Linked DNA regions of Homo sapiens. The protein of the gene in region 2 interacts with the protein of the main gene of each other region in a pairwise test. Each region holds a gene or a part of one and is shown on either strand. Other genes may lie near its edges. The genes, in order: NUDT3, ASB13 and HAPLN2.

Region 1 (5,491 bases), on a different chromosome or scaffold from region 2:
AGAAATAATAGGTATTTGTTAGACCTGAGTGTACATTTCACATGTTATCCTTCACATATTTCTCATTTTCATCTAGTACTTTCTTAATGCCTTTGTTGGAGTCCGCATCCTCATCTTTAAAAAAAAAAAAAAAAAAACAGCTTAGCCTAAGCCACATTCACTTTTTTTAGTTCACAAAAAGGATTTAATAGCCACAATGTGATTTTTGCCACAACTGTGTGATTTTAATATTCTCTAATATCAAGGGCGGATTTAGAATTGCAGGAAATACCTGGAGAAATCACAGTGGAATGAATTTTTGCTTTAAGAGAAATGAGAGTTGGCTGTCTCTGTAATTGATAATACAGCTTCATCCTAGTCCCATCTGCATTTCAGAAAATAACCCTCATCTTTACAAAACACAGGACACTTGTGGGACAGTTAACTCAAGCAGCTATGGGGAGGGAGGAGATTATTGAATGGTGATTAAATAATGCAAATGGCTCTTCTGTTTCTTAAAGACTGTGGAAGAGGTCAGACTGCCCAGTTGAGGTGGGCAGTTCATACTGCTCAGTTGAGGTGGCAGTCATTTATTCTGAGTCCTGTTGGATAGAGCCTATCTCCTCAAGGCTACAGAGGCTTCCAGGATATGGAGCTGTGCATGTTAATGGCTCAGCCTTGCCTCCATCAGGGCACCTGCCTAACTTGGAGCAAGTGGGAGAGCACCCTAGAGTCATCCTCTGTGCTGTTTCGTGAGTTTTGCAGCGGAGACTTCACCATCCGGAGGAGCTGTGTTTCTGTGTCACTTGGGATATCACCTAAAAATGAAACATTTGATATTTTAAGGTATAAAAAAAAAGTAAATTGGGGAACATTGGCTGCAGTCCCTAAAAGATACTGTTGTCTGTGCATCAGGTTAGCTTGAGGTCACCACAGGTCCTGGGAGCCCAGAGAGTTTAGGCATACTCTCCTTTGGAGGCCAGCAGCCTTTCACAAACCCTGCCTCTAAAAGGGCGGTTTCACATTTGACCATGTTTTTGCATTAGCCTCAGAAACTCTTGTCTTTAGCTGATAACCTTTGAGGGATGTGAGAAGCCTAGTTGGAGCATCTGAGAAAATGATACCTCTCACCTTCAAATTAATCAAATAGTTTGTCCTTCTAGTCCCCTTATAAATTAATAAATGGAGGGCTGGTCATGGTGGCTCACGCCTGTAATCCCAGCACTTTGGGAGGCCGAGGCGGGTGGATCACAAGGTCAGGAGTTCAAGACCAGCCTGACCAATATGGTGAAACCCCATCTCTACTAAAAATACAAAAATTAGCCAGGTGTAGTGGCACGCTCCTGTAGTCCCAGCTACTCGGGAGGCTGAGGCAGGAGAATCGCTTGAACCCAGGAGGTGGATGTTGCAGTGAGCCGAGATCCCGCCACTGCACTGCAGCCTAGGCGACAGAGCAAGACTCCGTCTCAAAAAAAAAAAAAAAAAAAAGAAAAGGGAAGGGAATCCCATTTTGTGATGATTTGGGCACACTACTTGAGCTGAGGCTAGCAGTCACATGATTTTGGCTGTCTCTGACCTGAAGCTTTTGAAGTAAGGTTATGTCTCTTCCCTGAAGCTTTGTTTATAGTGGTAATTTGGTGAGTTTGAGCTTTGAGCTTGTCTTAGAAAATAAGACTGTCCACCTGGGGAGGGGAGCTTATAGGGAACCCGTGTTAACTCAGAATGCTGAAGAAAGTGCTTTTAGCCAACAAAAGTAAGATTACTATCTAGAAGGTGGAAAGAAGTCATTGCTTCTGTTCCTCCAGCAGTCAGTTGACTCTAGGTTTCCTTTGGTTTATATCCCCAGTTCTTAATACTAAAACTTATTTGACTTCCTATCAGGAAGCACACAAAAAAAGCGTCATTTAAAACCCTGGATATAGGCTTTAAAGGATACAAAAACAGCAGCATTGTCGTTTTGCCAGGTTCATCACCATTTTGATGTGCTACCCATCCTTCCACCCTCCCTTTCCTGCCCCCAAGCCTCCCAGCCAGGCCAGATGTGAAGATTCTATTAATCACTGTTTCAGAGAACATTAATTCTTGTATAGAATAATTATCTACTAAATTGCTTATTATCTGTGACTACCTTGCAGAGAACATCTCAACAGTGCAGTAAAATAGCTCTCCTAGACTTGAGCTTCCAGCCAGGCATTTAGATCACTCTTAAGCCTTTGTGGAATTCTGAGGAAAAAAAGCAAGATGCCTCAATGCCAATGCTGGGCCATAAGATTCTACTCCCCTCCCTGTAGGGTGGGGCGCGTGGCTCAGCTTTGGAAAATCATTTTGCCAGTAATATTGCCTGTGAATCCCTTTAAGAAGTCGTCCTGATCTGAGCCTGTCTTTCTGAGCACTTTGGTGCTGAATTGAAAATGGTAAGCTAAAGCAGTGACAGATCCACGTAGCCTCTTTAACCTCTTTATTATCTTGCCAAAAAAAAAGTTTCTCAGGTTAAACCTTTGTCTTTAACCTCCCTTTGTTGTGGAGAAAATGTGTCACTAATCAGTGGTCCAAGGGATATCTAGCTTTGGTTACTCAGTTCCTGCAGCATAACAGATATGACTTATGCCAGGGAAGGTAGAGGCTGATTATGGAGACACCCAGGAACAGGAATAAGAAGGGATAGGTCTGCTCCACGTAGAACCTCCCCAGATCGGAAGTTAAGTCTTGGAGAGTTTCCAAAGTGCTGAAGTAAAAAGGAGACTTGGAGGGCCTTTGCTTAATGAGCAAGAGGCTTGTGTCCTCCCAAGAACATGAGGGAGTTCAGAAGGGAGCTATAGCTCACAGACAGAAACCTGCCCGCTCACCCCATCCCTCGTGACTGGGAGCATGTTTGCTCAGAATTTTCTAAGAGGACTCTCCCTTCAAAAATCCAATTTGCTCCCAGAATGTTGTTTAGCCTCTGAGAATCTCACTCTTTCATTTCCATCTGTGAATGGACATAGATGTGTTGCTCAGGGATCAGAAACATCAGAGTCCAGGGCCCAGTGGCATGGTGTTGCATTAGTAGTTAGAAAAGTAATTGGTCAGCTCTACTGTAAAAGAAATAAGTATGTAGTACAGTTTTGTAAATGTCAGGTCTGTTCTATTGTTTTGTGATCTGAAGACTGTCAAACTGGTTGATAATCAAAGAAAAGGTTGGTGGTTAGAATAAGTAAAATTTCAGTTAGAAAGATATAGCTTACCAGTTTTCCATGTGCTTAAGGAAGTCAAGAATATTTCAGGTTGTTGAGAACTGTTGTAAAATGGAATTGAAGCTAGTGTCTCTCACCTTCTTAGGTGTATCAGAGAGAGGAAGTGGAAGGCCAGTAGTAGCATCTTCATACTTACTTTTGCCAGCCCAGCCTCCATTTCAAAGACTTTGTCTTCCATCCTATCCAATGACATGGTCAGGGATGGGCTCTGAGGAGGCAGTGAGGCCCCACCTTGGTTTGCTCCACTGTGGTGTGTAGTCTCCAAACAGCTTAAGGGTTTTTAAGTTTTCTCACGATTACCTCCACTCCACTCATCTACTATCAGCATCAGAAAGGTTAACATCCCTGGGACCATTCTACTTATAAAAGAGATGAACTAGTGTGCTTTCTCCCCTTTTCCAGGTGTGCCATCCATATACAATCTCCTCTTGGCCAAGTTCAACAAATGTTTCCAGGGAACCCCGTGGGTTGAGGCAAAGTAGCCAAGATGTATTGAGTTAAGTTTTTCTAGAGGACAAAAGTATTTCTTGTCCCTTTTCCCTCATGCTCATATGTTTTAGCTGAGGCGTAAATGGCCAAGTTGAGTAATATCTGTGGAACTGAGACAGAGAGCCAGGGACCCATGTACCCAGGGACCAGTCCCCTGGGGAATCACACAGTGGCTCAGACTAGACTGCTCTATCCCACCAGAACTCTGCTGCTGTTCATTTCCATCAGGACCACCCAGGAAAGCAAATAAGTTAGCCTTCTCATCATTAGGTCACCTAATCTCTTGGGTTGCAGGATGAGAGCATATATAGATCTCCTGTTTAGAGAGTGTGTTCATAATTGTAGAAAGGGATAGAAAATGGAATAACCAAGAGGCTGTGTCATTTTTTAAGAGGATGGCAAGGATGACCTCAAATGAGCTCAACAAAACTGGGAATCCAAGGAATGGTGCTTGTAGGGAAAGAGAGGTCAGTTGTGGTCCTTAAACCTCTTGGCACCTTGTGCGGGTTATAAAACAAGGAGCTGGAGTAAAATTGCCCTTACCCCCAATCCAAATGCTGTCCAGGATTTAGGAGCTACCCAACCTGTGGTTATATGGTGTTGGTTTCCATTTTTTGTTTGTTTGCTTGTTTCCAAAATAGCCTTGCTTGGTACTGCATGGAAAGTTCAAGCTTTTCTTCTTGCCCGCTCAGGGCTGGCCTCTTCCCCGTGTCTTCACAGCGTCCCTAAGGAAGATTTTTGCAGCACTCTCTGGAGCTGAGGGGAGTGAAATTTGGTCCAGAGAAGGCGGAAGGAAATAGTTTTCCTGTTTCCTTTTCTCGAGGTGGATGTCCTCAGGCTTCCTTCACACCTCCTTCTCATGGGTGCGGCTGGCAGTACAGTCAGGCTGTGGAGGAGGGCTGAGAAGAAAGGGGCACTGGTCCAGCCCCAGGTTTGGTCTGAGACAGGTACACAGCAGATACCATCCCACCTTCCTCTCTAAAGAACAGGCCAGCCACACATATAACCCTTTCCCTACTTTACTAATGTATCCCTTATGTGGTACCAGCAATGGAGGACAGGCAGACTTACCCCCTGCCATCTAGAGAGAATGTTGTTATTACCCGTAAAACTTGACCACCCCCATATCCCACTCCTTTTTGTAAAAACAAATGCTTAAACCTGTGAGCCTGCCGTTCCTTTCTATGTGTTAATCAGTTTCCTTCCATTTGAGCTGTGTGGGAGGGAAGGGCATTGAAATTGTAGGTTGTAATCTTGTGCCAACCAATAAAAACCAGTATTTCACACACATCCCTTTTAGTGTCTGGTCTCTTCTTTCCAGAGGCTTCCCTTGAGTCCTTCATGTCAGCCTTTTGGTTTCCCCCACTCCTCTGCTAGATTCTTGGGAATTGCCCTAGAGGTCAAGGGTGACCCCATGGAAGATTTGGTGTGCAGGGCATTCAGGTGAGAAACGCAGTGGAGAAAGCCAGAGGCTATTAAAATCAGCATGTTGTTGTATCTTGCCGTCCTTGCTACCAGGTGCCGAGACAGAGCCCTGGTTAGACGGTCAGTGCCCACTGCTGAGGAGAGGGCCTGTACCCCTTAGCCAGGGAGGCTTTCTAGGGGACCCAAAGGAGTTGGAAGGGGTAAGAGGTGAGCCACATCCAGAATAAGGAAGCATCACAAGAAGTTGCTTTCTTCTGTGTGGGGTGGAATCAGGAAGGGCGGAGCCATTTTTGAAGCTGTGAGTGGTAGGGCTTGCAGGCCGAGAATGGGTGGGCATCATCAGTGGGAGAGCAGCATTAAGTGAG
Region 2 (9,064 bases):
TTTTGGTTTTTTGAGACACGGCATTATATTTCAGCACCCAAACTTGTCATCAAACAACTAATCTGCAGCTAGGAGGCTCATCTGTCAAATGTCCAGCACAGGAGGCACAGGTCTGGTGCCCGGGCAGGTGTCGGCCACAGCTTCTGCTGCTCCACGCCACGGGCCACAGGGAACCCAGGGAGAGCTGGGGCAACAGCACAAACAGCCCCCGCAAAGTGCTTAAGGGTCTGTCCTAGCGCAGAGGACAGGAGCCAGGACTAACAGCCCAGCTCTCCGCGGAAGCCCACAGGGAGCCGGCACGTCAGGGGTCCAGGCTGAAGGCTGGAGGGGATGGGGTGCGCTCGGTGGGGTGTCTCACTTTCGTAGTACTCGAAGCACTTGGCGGGAGCGCTGCTGCTCCACGTGTAGTCAGACGGCTTCTTCCCGCGGTTGTCCCGGGCGTAGATGTTGCCGCCAAACTCGATAAGCATCTCGATGAGGTCAACATTCTTGACCTTGGCCGCGTGGTGAAGGGCAGTCTCATGAAGCTTTGCCGCATTCACGTTGGCCCCTGGAGGTCAAGAGTGCAGAAGAGATTTCACCAAGAAGAGAACTTGAAGTCAGGGGGACAATCAGGTCCGTTTCGTCACACAGCACGGTGGCAGAAGCAATCCCCACCCAGAAGACAAAATCAGGACAGACTCTACCGTAGCTTTCAAAAATGTTTTTCAACATCCAAAAGCAGGAACTACTTACTGTCCCCACTCATGAGAGATAAAGGTAGGCAGCAATAATAAAGAAATAACTAGAAATAGAACCGAAAAGAAGAAAAATAAAACGAAAAATGTCCTGAGTTAAACAACCGTTCTAATGCCCTATCAATCTGCCTTCAGGGGTCCTGAGATTTCCGGAAGCTCAAACCAGAGCCACTCAAGCACTCCCGCCTGGCCTCCAGCACAGACACACACTGCTTCTTCCTCTTGCGGGCCCAGGACGGAGGCTCCAGAAATACTGGTTGAATGAAAGAATAAATGTTCCTTAACAATGCATATTCTTTTACAAAAGGAAAACAGATAACGTACCCAAAACAGTAGGCAATTCAGAGAAGAGAGTAAGCTCTGCACTCCTCAACTTTCTCACGATAAGAGCAGACATTCATCAAGCTGATTAAAAGTAAAGGTAAAAAAAAATTTTTTTTTAAAAAAAAGAGCAGACATTCAGAAAGATGCAAGGAATTAGTAGCTAAATATGGCTGGTTTTGGGTTTTTTTTTTTGAGACAGAGTCTCACTCTGTTGCCCAGGCTGGAGTGCAGTGACATGATCTCGGCTCACTGCAACCTCCGCCTCCAGGGTTCAAGCGATTCTCCTGCCTCAGCCTCCCGAGTTGCTGGGATGACAGGTGTGCCACCATGCCCGGCTAATTTTTCTATTTTTTGTAGAGACGGGGTTTTGCCGTGTTGGCCAGGTTGGTCTCGAACTCCTGGCTACGGGCATGAGCCACCACACCTGGTCACATATGGCATTTTGCAACACACTAAAAAAAATTTTGATAAAAATATGATTTTTGTAACACATCATTCTTAGGGCACAGCCATCACTGATCCGATACAATGGAATCCCCCAGGGCTTCAGAATTCTTTTGAAAGAAAATGCCATTTTATTCGAAGTCTGTTCCTCAAGTAACAAAGGAGGTTATAAGAGAAAACAAATAAAAGAGAAGTGTTTTAAAGAAGCCAAGCAAATCGCCCAGCATCAGTAAAATAATTCGCCAAATGATAGATTCAAACCACAAACATAAAGTATTATCAAAAGTGGGATTTTAAAACAATCAGACACTAGCATGCCATCACTTCCCGACAGTCTCAGAGGGTCAAAAGAGGAGCTGAGAGGTGGAACGCTTTTACATTTTCTAGTTCCTCTAGCTCAAAAAGCATCGGAAAAATCCCGCTTTCTGCTTTAAAATATTTTAATCCCCTAAAAGCACATAAGAACCATGCTCATAACAGCATTCGTGGAGGGATCCTAAGAACGCCCCAGCCCTCCAAAGTGATGACATAATTTAAGAAAGTTCTTTCCACTTCCCGCAGCCAAAACTCAGAAGTCAGAACAGGAAAAGGATCTCTCAACTAGGAAAAATGCTAACTTATCTATGTCCTGAATTTGGCAGAAATGTACTACAAAAAAATAATATTCAAAAGCAATAGATTAAAGAAATATTTCCCCACAATTCAACCTCTCTTTCACATAAGGGGTTTTCCTCCAGTATAATGTTGCAATCATAACACGAAGTAAATTTTAACACTAAACATATGCTTGTAATGAAAAACAAATTGTACCATCCACAGAATCTAAAGTTCAAGTAGCTTTCTCTCATGTCATTAATTCTGGCAATATTCTTGCCAATTGGGAGAGAAAGAGATGGTCTCTATTTTAACAAAAGAAGAAAAACAGAGAAAGAGGCCCAAGGGAGGCACAGCTACTCTCTCACGATCAGGGAGAAAACCATGGCTGGAAAGAGCTCTAAAAATCACGCTCCCTGCCACGCTCCACAGACGAGGCCTTGGCCAGGGGCTCTTGCAGGGAGGCAGCCTTCCCAATGTACATCTTTTCAAAATGTGTGTTTGGCATCATTTGATTGGGTGGAAGGGAAGGAAGGTGAATAAGGAAGGAAATGAAATTGTGAATAAGGGATTGAAGGGAAACACCAGGCCAGGGGTGCAGGCAGCTACATGGATGGATCCTGAAAGTATAGCACTGAGTGAGCCAAGAAGAGAGTCAGAGATGAAACTCGATCAGCTATGTTCATTAAAAATATATGCTTGGGCCAGGTACAGGGCTCACGCCTGTAATCTCAGCACTTTGGGAATTCGAGGCGAGCGGATCTCTTGGGCCCAGGAAATCGAGACCAGCCTGCGCAACATAGTGAGACCCTAGCTCTACAAAAATTTAAAAATTACCCGGGGGGCGTGATGGCACACATCTGTGGTCCCACCTACTCTGGAGGCTGAGGTAGGAGGATCACTTGAGCCCGGGAGGTTGAGGCTGCAGCAAGCCACGATCGTACCACTGCACTCCAGCCTGGATGACAGAGTGAGGCCCATAGTGAGAAAGAGAACATAAACAGGTACTCGTTAGAGGAAAACAGGGCCAGACACGGTGGCTCATGCCTGTAATCCCAGCACTTTGAGAGCCTGAGGCGGGCAGATCACCTGAGGTCAGGAGTTCAAGACCAGCCTAGCCAATATGGTGAAACCTCGTCTCTACTAAAAATCCAAAAATTACCTGGGCGTGGTGGTGCACATCTATAATCCCAGCTACTCAGGAGGCTCAGGCATGAGAATCGCTTGAACCAGGGAGATGGAGGCTGCAGTGAGCAGAGATCACACCACTGCACTCCAGCCTGGGTGACAGAACGAGACTCCATCTCAGAAAAAAAAGAAAGAAAGAAGGGAACAGATACAGAGGAAAGAAGGAAGAGAGAAAGAGGGTAGGAGAGGGAAAGAAAGTAACTTTGTGTGAAGCAAGGATGGTAACATACCTTGAACTGAGAGGCAAGAGAAAGACTGAGGCAGAGACAGAGACACAGAGACAGAGAGAGACAAAGACAGGGAGCCAGGAAACAAGCAGGGAATTAAAAGCTCTGAACTTCGTGCTTCAGAGAAAAGGGGTCAACACAGGCTCATTACCAAAATCCTGCTTTCAACACAAAATAGGATTAAAGTGGATTCAGAGAACCCGTGGCCAGTGACGTGACGGGACCGCCTAAGACCTTAGCACGCCAAGACTGGCACAATCCTGGAACATAAACACAAATAGCTCAATAGGTGCTTGTTACCACAAGAGAAATTGAAAAAAAAAATTAAATTTAAAAAATTATAATTAAAAAATTTTTTAAAAATTAAACAACAATTTTAAAAAAATTTTTTAAATTGTGCCAGGGCCAGTGCTAAGAACAAAGGTGGAAGCAGGACCGTCCTCAGGGAGCCGCTTCCGAACACTCCTGGCAGAGTTCAACATTCACTGTCAGTGATCAGATTAAAAATTACTTCACCATCATAACCGGACTTTCACCCTCCCCAGCCCTCCTCCTTTGCAAATACAATCTGGTTCCTGGACTCGCCTCACTGCCTACAAAGAACAAGAACAACGGTCTCCACGTCCCCCGTGGGGTGCAACGTGGCTCTGCCTCACAGCTCAGCTCTCAAACCGCACATGAAAGCACCTGCACTCATGTGGGCCCCGACTGGTTCAATCCCTCTCCCCTCTCCACAGTAACTGGTTCAAATGATCCAGGCTTGAGCCGATCAGAATTTGGCAAAGTTTGGGCAAAGGGACTGGGGAGGGGTGCAGGAAAAGGGACTTTCCACTCTTCTGTTTTTCTAGAGACACGGTCCCTGGCTTTCCTTTGGTTTCCCGAGGGATCTGTGACCTGACCCCAAAAGATCAGAATCACTACTTTTTAAAAATCTGTTTGTGAGGACGTAGGGGATGCTGTTGTTTCTCTCTCCTCTGTATGTTTGAAATTTTCCGCAATGAAAAAATGGTTTCTAAGAAGAAGATGATGATCCATCTGCTCTCACAAGGGGTACTAGAGGAGACCACCCAAGAGTAGGATGGGAACCAGGAATCCCGCGTGGAGCTGATGGCTGGATGCTACCCACAGCATCGAGCCAACACCAACAGTCACTGTGCGGAGGCTTCCCCAAGAAAGCCACGTTCACCTCTAACTCCCCAGGGGCATGCAAACTCCCGGGGAGAGCTGTGGGAACCCCACTTTAGGGCGACAGTGGGCCTCACAGCTGCCCCTTCCTTTCCAGCCCCCACCCCCGACTGTGCTGCCACCTGGTAATGTGGTGGGGGCGGGAGCAGACCTGACTTCAGCTCCAGCGTGGGTCCCGCCTAGTCCAATCCCTCTCCCCTGACCACAGTAATTAGTTCTAATGACCCAGGCTTCAGCCCATCAGAATTTGGCAAAGTTTGGGCAAAGGGACTGGGGAGGGGTGTGTGAAAAGGGATTTTCCACTCCGCTGAAAGAGCCTCCAGAAGGCTTAAAACAGGAAACGTCTGGCGTGTAGGCCTGAAGCCACTGCAGCCCCGTGACCTTGCTCAGGGAGGCCGGAGGCTTAGGATGAAGCCAATACTGAGGAAAGCAGAATCGCAACGTTCAAAGAAACTGAGGCCTGGGTGACACCACGGAACCTCCGGTCCAGCCGCCCCTAATCCTGCTCTGCGTCTCAGCCCTGAAGTCACCTGAACTAGAAATGCCCGCCATTGTTTACCAGTGGAAGTGGCTTCCTGTTACTCGCAAAGGTGTCCAACTGACATGAAGTCCTAACTGATACAGAAAGGATGTTTGCTTTAAACACTAAGTTGATCCCTTTCCCTACAACCACACCAAACAGAACGAAGGTAAAAATGGAACTCGTGTGTACTGAGCTCATAAAGGCTTGATATGAACGCACTGCGCTGTGTTCATAGAAACGGATCCAGCTGCCAGAGGAACGGCTCGGCTGGAAACGCTTACACCTGCTTCCAATGGAGATACTTCTAAGACAGTGTATAAAAAAATTAAAAGTACCTCAACAACTATTCCTACACAAAACGAATCTTTTCCACTAAAAAGACTGAAAAGTGGCACATGAAAGTGAGTAAGATTCTCCAATAAAAAACTACACATAACTAAGCTCAAATGGCTGTCATCAGGGGGAATTCATGATCTTCCTGTTCCCAAACAGGTTTGTTCTTGTTGTTAAGAGAAGGGGACTTGCTATGTTTCCCAGGCTGGCTGAAACTCCCGGGCTCAAGCAATCCTCCCGCCTCAGCCTCCCAAAGTGCTGAGACTATGGCTGTGAGCCACAGTGCCCAGCCATCCTAAACAGTTTTGTTTTTATCCTACACTACACCCAGAATTTGGATAAGATGATGAAACTAAAATTTTCCCTCAACAAAACATTTAAGTTGGGTTGATAAAAACCCTGTGCTAACAGTCACTTTGGCTAAAACTTTTGGTATAGACAGGTCCTGAGCCTAATCCTCGATTGGTTGGTCTTTTTGGTTTTGATTTTTTTCCCTCTTTGGGAATCTCAATCCTGAGTCTTTTCGAACACCCGACAATGGCCTGGATTCCAAATGCTCCATATTCTCCTAAACGCTGCCAACTCCACTTCCCATTACATCCCCTTCTCTCTTGGATTCAGGCAGCAACCTCACCAGGCAGCTGTGGGGACAGTGGCCTGTGATCTCTAGAAATAATCATTGGCATCTGTTGAGTACCTACTAGGACACACCAGGCACCGGGGAAACATCCTCAGTTCTCCCAGCAACCTGCAGCATAGATTCTTCCAGTGTTACAGATATGTAAACTGAGGCCCGAGGTCTCAGCTGGCAAGTAAGAGAGCCAGCCTCCAACCCTGGTCCCTCTGACTCCTCTACCCAGCTCTCTGCTAGGCACAGTAAATACCTGTTCAGGTAAATGCTCGTGCAAGTAAACACCTGCTCAGGTGAACAGCCTTGCAAGTATATACCCATTCAGGCAAACTTCTCAGATAAATCCATAAATACACACTCTGCAGGTAAACACCCACTCAGGCAAACACCCACTCAGGCAAACACCCACTCAGGCAAACACCCACTCAGGTAAACACCTACTCAGGCAAACACCCACTCAGGTAAACACCCACGCAGGCAAACACCCACGCAGGCAAACACCCACTCAGGTAAACACCCACACAGGTAAACACCCACTCAGGTAAACAACCACGCGGGTAAACACTCACGGGGGTAAACACCCACTCAGGTAAACACCCACGCAGGCAAACACCCACTCAGGTAAACACCCACGCAGGCAAACACCCACTCAGGTAAACACCCACTCAGGTAAACACCCACGTGGGCAAACACCCACTCAGGTAAACACCCACTCAGGCAAACACCCCCTCGGGTAAACACCCACGTGGGCAACACCCACGGGGGTAAACACCCATGCAGGCAAACACCCACTCAGGCAAACACCCCCTTGGGTAAACACCCACTCAGGCAAACACCCACTCAGGTAAACACCCACGCAGGCAAACACCCACTCAGGTAAACACCCACTCGGGCAAACACCCACTCGGGTAAACACCCACGCGGGCAAACACCTACTCAGGTAAACACCCACTCAGGTAAACACCCACGCAGGCAAACACCCACGCAGGCAAACACCCCCTCGGGTAAACACCCACGGGGGTAAACAACCACGCAGGTAAACACCCACGCGGGCAAACACCCACTCGGGCAAACACCCCCTCGGGTAAACACCCACGCGGGCAAACACCCCCGGGGGTAAACACCCACGCAGGTAAACACCCACACGGGCAAACACCCACTCAGGCAAACACCCACTGGGGTAAACACCCACGCGGGCAAACACCCACTCCGGTAAACACCCACGCGGGCAAACATCCACTCCGGTAAACACCCACTCGGGTAAACACCCACTCGGGCAAACACCCACTTGGGCAAACACCCACGCAGGTAAACACCCGCTCGGGCAAACACCCACTCAGGTAAACACCCGCTCGGGCAAACACCCACTCACCTGCATTGAGCAGCACTTTGACACAGTCCAGATGCTCCCGGGCACAGGCAACGTGCAGAGGGGTCCCAAAATGGCAATCGTGCGCTTCCAGATTGGCCCCGACGTCAATAAGAAGCCTCACACATTCGGAACTCCCTTAAGATAAATGGAAAAGGGGGGGAATGTCCTTGAATACGGACACTGGAGACAACAAGCACACAGACGCGGCAGGGGCAGCAGCCTCCATCCTTGGTGCAGGGCAGGGAAGCCAGGCAGGCCTGCGTCCCAACCTAGGGAGGAGTTCATGACCCGCATGGCCCTCAGGAAGCCAGGACACGGCTCTGCGCCCCGCTGAGGACGGAGGGCTCAAGGCAGTGGGAGAAACGGGCCTGGCCGGCTTCTTGCTGTGAGAACAGAAGACATGGGGCACCACCTAGAATGGGTCAGGGAAAACTCCCCCGCTGCCCCCCTGCCCTGTGTCTACCTGCGGCTGTCAGCACTGAGCCCAGCCTCCCAGGAAACCCCCCAGACTTTCTTATGCAGGTCATCCTCCTGTGCACCACGGCAGCCGCCTCTCCTGCCTCTTTTTTTTTTTTAGACAAAGTCTCATTCTGTTGCCCAGGATGGAATGCAGTGGTGCGATCTCAGCTCACTACAACCGCCATCTCCCGGGTTAAAGCGATTCTCCCACCTCAGCCTCCCAAATAGCTGGAATTACAGGCATGCACCACCGTGCCCGACTAATTTTTTTGTATTTTTAGTAGAGACAGGGTTTCACCATGTGCCAGGCTGGTCTCAAACTCCTGACCTCAGGTGATCCGCCCACCTCAGCCTCCCAAAGTGCTGGGATTACCAAGGGCATGAGCCACAGCGCCCGGCCTCTCCTGCCTCTTAAGTGGCTCCTCTTCCTGGGTCTGTAATGCGGATTTGGAGCGGGGTTCCAGGCCCCCCATCCTCCCGCCCCTGCACATTCCGTCTAGGCTCCAACCTTTCCGTTCACTCAATTACCTCTTCACTGTTGGCAGCTCCCTAATTTTCCCCACCAGCCTCACACCCAGCCCCAGCCCCAGAGCCATGTGCTGGCCACCGGCCGGTGTCTCCCACTCTAGAGCCCTCTCCCTTTCCTGGGGTCCTTGCTCCTGACTCAAACCTGACTCATTTCTGACCTCTTGAGCCTCCCCTTCATACGAAATCCTATGGATTCCTTCCCCAACCCTACTAAATGAAACCATCCCACTCCACCAGCCTACTCTGAGCACTGGGCACCTTGATCTCAGCGATGGTCCCCAACTCATCCCTCTGCTTCCAGGAGACCCCAGCCACCACTGCACCTCCGTCTATCTGCACATGGAGGACCACTAAATGAACCTTCCCCAAATTCTGTTTTCCTGACCCTCGACATCTGCTCAGAAACCTTCAAGAGCTCCCTGGAGCTGTCCCATGGCCTGCAGACATGGAAAGACCTACGAGCAGGAATCAGGGGTGAGCCACATGCAGCCATGGCCCTGCCAGCACCGTGGAAGGGCA
Region 3 (3,811 bases), on a different chromosome or scaffold from region 2:
ACGCAAGGTTAATTTCCTGTCAATTCTAGCAACAATATGACTTTCCTATCTTTAACAGTAGTCCCCGCAAACGCTTCAGGGAGGTCTGCAGCCTGCACATTTTGAAATATGTTTAAGTTGTCTTATATTTGTTATCTGGGGCACATAGGGTGGGCCTGGTGGCATGGGGCGCCCCTGGCAGATTTGAACTAATCTTAGGTGAGTGTGCGGCGCCCCCGCGTGGCGCCTGGCGCAACAACATGCTGGGTTCTGCGTGGGTCCTGGGCCAGGCGCCCACTACGTCTCCACTTCTCTCTCTCCCTTGGCCTATTGGTGCCCTCCGGCCGCACTCCCGCTCTTCCGCTGACCCATCCCTTAACAGCAACAGCCCTGCCCCTTACCCTGTCTTAGGTGCTCAGTGGGCACGCAGGATCCCGGGTCATCAGCCCCGACATGAGCGTGCACACACACACACACACACCCCTCCACGCCTCGCAGCTCTTACAGCTCCACCCAACACAAAAGATCCCCAGGTTATTTTATTGCTGTACTCAGAGGTCAGTTAATGCCCCCGGCCGCCTCACCCTCCCCCCGGCGGTGGCTGAGTCCTCTGCTAGGGTTCGCGAACGGCAGCGGGTCCGAGGGTCACCTCTGCATCTCGCCGCCGGAGGCGCCCCCGCCTCCCCTCCCCGCCGCCGGGCCAGCCGGGGTCCGAGGCCCGCAGCCCCCGGCTGGGAAGGCAGGTCTGGAGAGGCCGCTCCGGGTCTGGAGGGAGGGGAGGCTCTCCGGAAAGGGGTGGCGAGAGACCCCCGCCACGACTCCCAAGCTTCTTCGCGCGCGCTGGAGGGGACACGGTGGGCGCCTAATTCTCGGCGTAGCAGTAGGTCCCATAGGCTGCCTGTTGGGGCCTGGGGAAGCCGAAACTGCGCACTCCGGGATCCGGGAGCCCCCCGCAGCGCGGCCTCGGCGTGGTGATTGGGAAGCGCACACTGCCGTCAGCCAGCCAGCCGCCGTCGCACTGGTCTAGCCCCGAAAACTTCCAGGCGGCGTAGAGGTGCCCAACCTTGGCCACCACGGCGCCGCGTCGCCGGCACGCCGCGTGGGCTTCAGACAGCGTCAGCCGCCCGGGCACGAAGAACACTTGGCCTGGGGACCACAGCGGGTCACCGACCGAGGGCAGGGTGGGCGGAGAGGGGCGGCTGACACCCAGGAGGCGGAGTTGGGGTGCGGGACCGCAGAGGTGCTGGATCGAGCTTGGGTAAGAGGAGTTGGGGGATCGAGGCAAAAGTGCAGGGAGGGTTTGGAGAGGTGAGCTGGAGCCTGGGCGGGCGGGCGGGCTGATGGGGGGGCGGTGCCTTGGAGGGACCCGGAGACCCTGCCCTGATCTCAAGCTGAGGTCCACTCCTCGTCCCCCACATTTTTCAGACCCCTCCCCAAGACCCTGCCTTCGTCCCGCGCCTCACCCGCCAGCGCGGAGGTGAAGCAGAAGGCGTCGTAGCGGTCGCGCATCCGGTCGCGGGGTCCGTAGCTGCGGATCCCGGGCCGGCCTCGGCCGCCGCACGGGGCGCGTGCGGTGAGCACAGGGTAGCGCACGGAGCCCTCGAGCAGCCAGCCCGCGTTACACCAGTCCAGACCCTCGGTCCAAGCTGGCGGGAGACGGCGGAGGTCGGGGATAAGAGGCGTCATAGGCAGGAGCCAGACTGAGCTCGCCTGGCGCCCTCTCTCGGGCCCCTGAGACAGCTCCGCGGGGCTTGGGAAGTGCTGGGTTCGGCCGCTCACCCTGGTAGAGCTGGGAGTAGGTGGCCAGGCGTCCGTCCTGCTCCTCGCACGCCTGCTTCGCCTCGTAGTAATTGAACTGGTACCGGCCCCGGCTGGGTTGGTACGGAAACACCACACCTAGGGGGTGGCGGGGATCCTGGGGAGGGCCAGCGGATGGGAGCGGAGGGGGAGGAAGGGCGGCGCGGCCTGGGAGAGGGAGCTGGGGTCCCCAGGGGTGCGGAGGAGATACTGGGAAGGAGCCCTGGGAGACCCAGGCGAGGCGGACCCGCTGCTACACAGGAATGGGGCGGGAGCGGAAGGGCCTCACCCTCCAAGCTCAAGGTCAGCGCCACGCTCTCGTCCTCGATGCCGTTGATGAGCTCGCAGCGGTACCGGCCCTCGTCCTCCAGGCGCACGCCCGCGATGACCAGGGAGGCGTCTAGTCGATGCCCCCTCCGCATCCTGGCGCGCCCTCCCAGGGGCCCATACCCCCGGGCGTGCAGTCCGTTGGTGATGAGGATCAGCGTTTCCCGGAGCTCCCCAGGCTCCACCTTGCTCCAGCGCACCTTGTAGCTGGGAGGCGTGGTGCCCAGGACGCAGGGCAGCGTGGCCGTGGCCCCACGATGAGAGTGAATGACCTCGTGGATGGGGGGCAGGAGGTAGTGGGGGCCCGGGTGGGATGCTGGGCAGAGGGGGCCACAGTGGCAGGAACCCCCAATCCTCACTGCCCCAAGTGCCCATCAGACCCTGCTCCCCAAATGCTTTCTCCAGAGCCCCCCAACCCTCTCCTCCATTGCCTTCTCAGCAATGACTTTCAGTCCCTGGGTACCTGCAACAACTGCCCTTTCCCCTTTCCCCACCCTTGCAGTCTCCCCAAGCCTCCCCCAGATTCTGGCCTGGGCTGGGGTCTTACCTGGGTCTCCTTGGGCTTTGTGGAAGATGGTGAAGGCCCAAAGAAGGAAGCGGCAGAGTGTGGGGAGGGTGAGCCAGCCTGGCATGATGGGGGGTCAGCCCGGCACCGTCTGCAGGGCACAAAGAGTGGGCAGTTCTTAGGACTGGGGCAAAAGGGTGGGGAAGAGCAGGGTTGTGGGTGAACTCCCATCAGAGATCCTAGAAGGGACTGTCCAGCTGGAAGCCACTGGGGCAGAGAAAAGGGGTTGGTGACAAAATGAAGGTGATGAGGGGAAGAAGGCAGTAGCAATCCCCTTCCTCTCCCTCTCTTCCTCTGTCACATCCTCTCAGCCTGCAGGTACTAATTTAGCATCTTCTCTACCTGTCCCCCTCATCACAAGTGCTACTTCCCAAGCTTGCCATCTGGACTGCCAGCTCGTCTCTATCCTCTCCCAACACCCATTCTCCATCTTGAAGCCAGAGTCAAAATGATCTTATCACTCTCCTGCTTTTTTATTTTATTTATTTATTTATTTATTTATTTATTTATTTATTTATTTTTTTGAGACAGAGTGTTGCTCCATGGTCCAGGCTGGAGTCCCGTGGCATGATCATGGCTCACTGCAGCCCCTAACTTCCAGCTCCAGGTGATCCTCCCATTTCAGCCTCCTGAGTAGCTGGAACTACAGACATGTGCCACCACACCCAGCTAATTGTTTCTTTTTAAGTTTTTAGTAGAGACAAGGTCATGCTGTGTTGACAAGGCTGGTGCTGGGATTACAGCAGGCGTGAGCCACCGTGCCTGGCCTTGTCACTCTCCTGCTTGAAAGTGACTCCCAGTTGCCCTGAGGATAAAATCCAATCTCATAACCACAGCTTCCAAGGCTGTCTATAATCCAGTTGCTCCCTGCACCTCCAGCATGGTCCCCGCCTCGCCTCTTAACCACTTTGGCCTCTGCACTGTTCCCCTGACATGCTGGATTTCTGGCAGTTTCCCACACAGTCCAAGTTTGCATTCATTTCCTTTCCTTTGTGCCTGCATTGGTCGCACAGGCCTCACCTCCTTTGGGAAACCTTTACCCACCCCCAGTTTGCCACACTGTAGTGCACTGTGATCTGCTGGACTGCGGACCTTTTTTTTTTTGAGACAGGGTTTTACTCTCTCGCCCAGACTGGAGTGCAG

Evidence for each region.
Region 1: the proteins of ASB13 (region 2) and NUDT3 interact in a two-hybrid assay, tested with the Homo sapiens proteins (2 studies listed by BioGRID and IntAct).
Region 3: the proteins of ASB13 (region 2) and HAPLN2 interact in binary tests that used the Homo sapiens proteins (3 or more experiments, as listed by UniProt).

The regions. Positions count from the first base shown.
Region 1 is NC_000006.12:34,279,179-34,284,669, reverse strand, and holds the end of NUDT3 (diphosphoinositol polyphosphate phosphohydrolase 1), read left to right. Parts: 3' UTR 1-4,991; downstream 4,992-5,491. UniProt on the Homo sapiens protein: Cleaves a beta-phosphate from the diphosphate groups in PP-InsP5 (diphosphoinositol pentakisphosphate) and [PP]2-InsP4 (bisdiphosphoinositol tetrakisphosphate), suggesting that it may play a role in signal transduction.
Region 2 is NC_000010.11:5,641,412-5,650,475, forward strand, and holds part of ASB13 (ankyrin repeat and SOCS box protein 13), read right to left. Parts: intron 7,694-9,064; coding exon 7,559-7,693; intron 1,143-7,558; exon of another isoform or gene 1,062-1,142; intron 551-1,061; coding exon 359-550; intron 1-358. UniProt on the Homo sapiens protein: May be a substrate-recognition component of a SCF-like ECS (Elongin-Cullin-SOCS-box protein) E3 ubiquitin-protein ligase complex which mediates the ubiquitination and subsequent proteasomal degradation of target proteins.
Region 3 is NC_000001.11:156,622,415-156,626,225, reverse strand, and holds the end of HAPLN2 (hyaluronan and proteoglycan link protein 2 precursor), read right to left. Parts: intron 2,760-3,811; coding exon of another isoform or gene 2,736-2,759; coding exon 2,651-2,735; intron 2,420-2,650; coding exon 2,066-2,419; coding exon of another isoform or gene 2,062-2,065; exon of another isoform or gene 1,929-2,061; intron 1,876-1,928; coding exon 1,759-1,875; intron 1,626-1,758; coding exon 1,443-1,625; intron 1,126-1,442; coding exon 842-1,125; 3' UTR 501-841; downstream 1-500. UniProt on the Homo sapiens protein: Mediates a firm binding of versican V2 to hyaluronic acid. May play a pivotal role in the formation of the hyaluronan-associated matrix in the central nervous system (CNS) which facilitates neuronal conduction and general structural stabilization.